Regions from separate parts of the Homo sapiens genome. Here region 2 is linked to region 1. The links come from fine-mapping of genetic effects on gene expression. Tissue or cell type: subcutaneous fat. Region 1 holds a variant in brackets; the other region holds the start of a gene. All regions are shown on one strand. Distances are between the middles of the regions.

The links. PIP is the estimated chance that this variant, and not a neighbour inherited with it, causes the effect.
Region 2: it holds the start of ZNF513, and the variant in region 1 is the best candidate, but not a certain one, in a credible set for the expression of ZNF513 in subcutaneous fat (GTEx, PIP 0.79).

Annotation. Positions count from the first base shown.
Region 1 is chr2:28,343,446-28,346,201 of GRCh38, reverse strand. No RefSeq gene overlaps it. Among named protein-coding and RNA genes, the nearest start is that of BABAM2-AS2, 34 kb to the right of the region's middle. The variant G/C (reference allele first, on the strand shown) is at 1,403.
Region 2 is chr2:27,379,204-27,381,959 of GRCh38, reverse strand. ZNF513 (zinc finger protein 513) reads left to right here and starts at 1,226. Exons shown (of 4, transcript NM_144631.6): 1 at 1,226-1,488; 2 at 1,712-1,867. The coding sequence starts at 1,434. It overlaps PPM1G (protein phosphatase, Mg2+/Mn2+ dependent 1G), which reads left to right. Exons shown (of 10, transcript NM_177983.3): 10 at 155-761. The coding sequence ends at 361. RefSeq lists a silencer at 1,254-1,473 and an enhancer at 2,614-2,756.

The sequences.
Region 1 (2,756 bases):
CTAGCCTGGGTAACATGACAAGACCTCCGTCTATATAAAAATACAAAAATTAGCCAGGCATGGTGGTACGCACCTGTAGTCCCAGCTACTTGGGAGGTTGCGGTGGGAGGATCATTCGAGCTCAGGAGATGGAGGCTGCTGTGAACTGAGATTGTGCCACTGCACTCCAGCCTGGGTGACAGACTGAGACCCTGTCTCAAAAAAAAAAAAAAAAAAATTTAAAAAAGTAACTTAATAGACAAAACCTCTGGAAACAAGGGAATTTAGGAGCTTGACAGAAGTGACGAGTCAGGGCCCCCAGGTCGCGCTGCTTAGCACAGGCTTACAGGGGAGCTGTGGGAAGAGAGGAGGGGGAGGCGGCAGGTGGATAGCCTTGGGCAGAGGGCCTGGGAGCTCATAGAGGTGGACAGCTGGCAGAGACACTCGAAGTGGGAGTGGCTCCAGCAAGAGGACTGGACTATCGTATGGGAGAGGCCAAAAAAGATTTTGTTGTTTTCGGTCAGTTAAACGCTTAAGGACAGGGATATGGAATGGAAAGGAAGGAGTGAGAAGAGGGACCAGGAGCAACTTGTGCCAAACCTAAAAGGCAATAATAATAAAGATAGGCTTTTCTGAGCACCACTGAGTGCCAGGCACTGGTGTAAGTGTTACAATGCTTATAACTCAGTGCCCTCATCATGGAGTCCTCCTGCCAGCACCGCGTGGTGAAGTTCCATTTTGCAGAGGAGGAAACTGAGATCAACTGGCTTGTTCAAGTTCACGCACCTAGGAAGTGGTGGAGCCAGGTTTGACTCAGGCCGGCTGGTTCCAGAGCCCATGGGCCTCAACTCAGCCAACGAGCCCATTCGCCTTGCCAGGGCTTGGTTTCGCTGAAGCGGGGCTCCAGGCTGGAGTTAGTTTTGTGAAGGGGATTAGCCCTGGTGGCCGCTGGCTGCTGACAGCTGGCAGTTGGAGTGGGCGAGGCTGAGGGGGCCCCTGGGCCTGGGCAGCTTGGGCAGGAGCCGGCGAGGAAGGGGAGGTGCCTCAGGGGGCCGCCTGGGTGTCGGTGCGGGTAGAAAGGCGGGAGAGACAGGCAGAGGCAGCCGTCTGGGTTGTACAACCTGCAGCCCACGCACGCCGAGAGCCACCAGCGTGGAGTCAGGATGAGGAGTCCTCCTCCCACCTGGTGTGGGCTGGAGTCCCAGGAGCGGGTGCTGGAGTGGGATAGCGGGGGATCAGCTCATCTGAAGCCCTGGTTGTGGGTGAGTGCGTGCACACGGATGTGCGTGCCTGCGCATGTGCGTGGCGAGGGAATGCGCCCTTGTGGAATCTCCCCTAGGGCAACCTGGCAGTGTGAGGCTGACCCTTGCCCCAAACCTCCTGTCCTCGGGCGTGACATCAGTCCCCAGCTGGGCTGTGAAAT[G/C]AGTCCCAGTCGAATCCTTCCCTACACCTACTTGAACTTACGTCCCTCATTGACACTTTCAGAGCTGACCCTGGGTAAGCGGCCCTCTTATTCGGCAGACCTCGCCTTACTCAAATGATTTTTGGCCTCCCCAGGATTTGCCCTGATACATTGCTTCGGCTGCCTGCAGGGGTGGGCTCTCCTAGTTCTCTGAAGGGTCAGAGGATCGAGAAGGCGCCGTGTGGGAACCACCTGGAACAGGGCCTGGACTGTCACGCATGGTGCTTGAGAAGGGAGAGGGCAGCTGTCACCTTTAACACCCACCCACCACCTTATTTCCAGATGGCACCCAGCACCCTTCTACGTACTGCTCTACTGGCACCTGCGCAGACAGCCAAAAGTCACCGGGAGCTGCAGCGTTCCGTTTTGGAGCAAAAGCGAGATCATGGAGTTGAAAGGGACTGATTTTCACTTTCTTGCCTGGCTCCTAGGCTCACTCAAAGGGCACGTTTCAAAGAGGCTCTCTGGAACGAGGAGCCTTCTGTGGAGGGACCTGCTCCATGGGACTTTAAGAAGGGGGTGGTGGGCTGTTTTGGGGGAAGATGAGTGTATGCCACACCCTCCACAAGCCATTTGGCTGGCTCATCCCAACGTGTTGCAGAGGCGGCTGGCCCGGGGCAGGGAGGCTCATTCTGGCCATCCCTGGGTTGCTTGTGGGGCTACTTTTCTGGCCATGATGACCCATGATTTATTATGACCCCAAGCACGACCTCTTAGACTTGGGAAGTGTGGTTCCTCCAAAGGGATCAGAGAATAGTGACAGAGTAAATCCAAGAACGCTGTAGAAGGAAGACACTTCTTTAGGCCTCTTAGAGTTAACTGCTTCCTATTCAACCTGGAATTAGTTCACGGACCCTGCTGTCTTTGGTAATACCTCGGTAATTTTCCTTAATAATTGTAACAACTGTTTCACCTTGTTTTCCTCAAATATTAGGCTGTTATTTCAACCAAGTGTGTTTTGGACTTTAACCAGAGACTATGGCACAAATTCTGAAGTCAGGTTTATTTATTTTTTATTTTTTAATTTTTTCCAGCTGTGGGCTGGCTCTGGCTCAGCCATCTGAAAATAAGTTATTTATATATATGTGTGTAGCCATATAGATATACTCATCCACATATACGAAGACCACTTCCAAGTCTTTTTTAGTTTGTTGCATGTGACCCCACAGAATTCCTTGGACCCAGCTGACCAGGGTTTGACACCCACTTCGTGTGATCTGGCCAGACCCAGCTACTCCAAGCCCCTCTCCTCACAGGGAAAATGGCAAAAAGCAGTGTGTAAATGTCTTATCAGGGCTCTGTATACATTAGATGC
Region 2 (2,756 bases), 960 kb after region 1:
TGCCTTATGGACTAGCAGGTGGGCCGTTGTGTGATACCTCTTGCCCATTCCTCTCCTACCACCCTGACTCAGCAAGCCAGCCCTCTTGTGGGACTGTAGATTCCTGGCAAGGTGTTCAAACCCTGTGGCTGAGCTACCCCCATCCCTTTCTTAGCTGCTGGATCAGTGCCTGGCACCAGACACTTCTGGGGATGGTACAGGGTGTGACAACATGACCTGCATCATCATTTGCTTCAAGCCCCGAAACACAGCAGAGCTCCAGCCAGAGAGTGGCAAGCGAAAACTAGAGGAGGTGCTCTCTACTGAGGGGGCTGAAGAAAATGGCAACAGCGACAAGAAGAAGAAGGCCAAGCGAGACTAGCAGTCATCCAGACCCCTGCCCACCTAGACTGTTTTCTGAGCCCTCCGGACCTGAGACTGAGTTTTGTCTTTTTCCTTTAGCCTTAGCAGTGGGTATGAGGTGTGCAGGGGGAGCTGGGTGGCTTCACTCCGCCCATTCCAAAGAGGGCTCTCCCTCCACACTGCAGCCGGGAGCCTCTGCTGTCCTTCCCAGCCGCCTCTGCTCCTCGGGCTCATCACCGGTTCTGTGCCTGTGCTCTGTTGTGTTGGAGGGAAGGACTGGCGGTTCTGGTTTTTACTCTGTGAACTTTATTTAAGGACATTCTTTTTTATTGGCGGCTCCATGGCCCTCGGCCGCTTGCACCCGCTCTCTGTTGTACACTTTCAATCAACACTTTTTCAGACTAAAGGCCAAAACCTAATCGTACGCATCGTGTCCTTTTTTTTCTGCTGCCGTGGCCCCCGACTTGGTCCCATCTGTAGCATGTGGCGAGCCCCCATGTGAGTGTGTGCGTGTGCTCGTGTGTGTCCTGCGCGTGTATAGGAGAGCCCAGAGCGAGCTGCTGGTAGGCCGGCCTGGCGGGCGTCGCGGCTGCCCCTCGCCCCCTCCTGCAGCCAGAAATGATCTAGTTCCCCCAGGGACAGGTTGGGACCGGTCTGGCTGGCCTGAAGCCTGGAGTCGGGCAGGACGCCTCCTGCGCTGCTCCCTGGCCGGCTCCCCGCTGCCGCTGATTGGCTTGCTCCCCGCCTCGTCACAATCACTTCCCGGTCACGCCATTGAGGCTCCCGCCGCGGCCGCTTCCCACGGACTACGCGTCCCGTGCGTCTCTGCGGCGGCGGAAGCGGAAGCGAGTACGGAGGTACCAGCTGGTCTCCGTAGGGGGGTAGGGGGCTCCATGAATGGAAGCGGCGGCGGCGGCGGGAGCGGCCTGAGCTGGGCGCCGGGGCCAGGGCCGGGGGCTGCCCAGGGCCCGCGCCGCTGCATGGGGGCGGCCCGCGGGCCCTGAGAGGAAGGGCAGACAGGCGGGCCGAGATAGGAGGGGCGGGGTCGGGCGGCCGCAGGCCGGAGGCGCGTCGGGCTGGAGCCGGTCACGATGCCCCGAAGGAAGCAAAGCCACCCGCAGCCCGTGAAATGCGAGGGGGTCAAAGGTCAGGGGTCAGGGGCCTTGAGGGGAGAGGAGCGGGGGTGGGGTCAGTGGAGTGGGCTCAGGTCAGGGTGGAGGGGGACTCCTGAGGGATGAAGTGGGCGATCCAGACTCCTAGCTTCCCACCGAGGCACTAAGGGAATCAGAGTGGGTCAGCGAGTACGGGAAGTGTGGTCCACGAGGGCTGGTTCCTGAGGGAGAATCCACAAGCCCCCTCCCCTCTTCAGTGGATACTGAAGACTCCCTCGACGAAGGACCCGGGGCCCTGGTATTGGAGAGTGATTTGCTACTAGGCCAGGATCTGGAGTTTGAGGAGGAAGAGGAAGAGGAGGAAGGCGACGGCAACAGTGACCAGCTCATGGGCTTCGAGAGAGACTCGGAAGGTGGGTTTTCGGGTCTTGGTTAAGGATTAGCGGCCGCTGGAGACCCCAGCCCTTCAGGAGGCAGGTTAGGTGAACAGAACACCATTTCCTGCCACAACCGAGGGCTGGTTTAGTTTACATTTGAGCTAGATGACTTCATTTGTTTAATGGTCCAATCACTTCCATCACTTTGTTGAGGTGAAGTTCTGAGGCCTGGTCAAAGGTGATAGGAATAGGAGGGTGGGTGAATCACATGGAGCAACTGATTAAAAGTAAATGCCCTGTCTCTCTCCCTAGCCCATTCCTTATGTGTATTTACTTTTAAGAGAGGTTCAGGGAAGCAAACTCTCTGTAAATCATTCAACCCAGTATTTAGGTCTAATCTAACTCCCTTTCACCTGCAGCGTAAGCTCCTTTTGTATTGAGAGGTTTTAGTTTCTGTCTTTATCCTTCCATGTCCCTCTTCCCTGTGATCTTAGCATCACCCTACCCTAATTTGCTGCACTACCCATCCACTTATGCAAGATGTTTTTTGAAAGTCATTGAGGGGATCCATGTAAATATCTGTTCTTTAGGCAGGCAAGTGGTATTACATGCATTACTTTCATTGTCTCCACTTCCCTCCAAATTTTGCCTCAGAGATAGGTTTTATTTTATATCAGCTCCTTACTAAAAGGGGCCTTAGCAATAGAGCTTAGAAAAAGGTCTTGGGGGCTCTCTCCCTTTCGTATTTTTACTTTCTTGTCTCAAGAATTAATTTCATTATGGATTCATTTCAGTCTGTGATCCACTGTGAGCCCTTGATCCTTGACCATTGAGGGAAACTAGATACAGGTCAATTCTACCATCACTAGATTAGTCCAGTGTAAGAGGTAGACAATTCATGTTGAATTTTCTGGAATTACTGCAG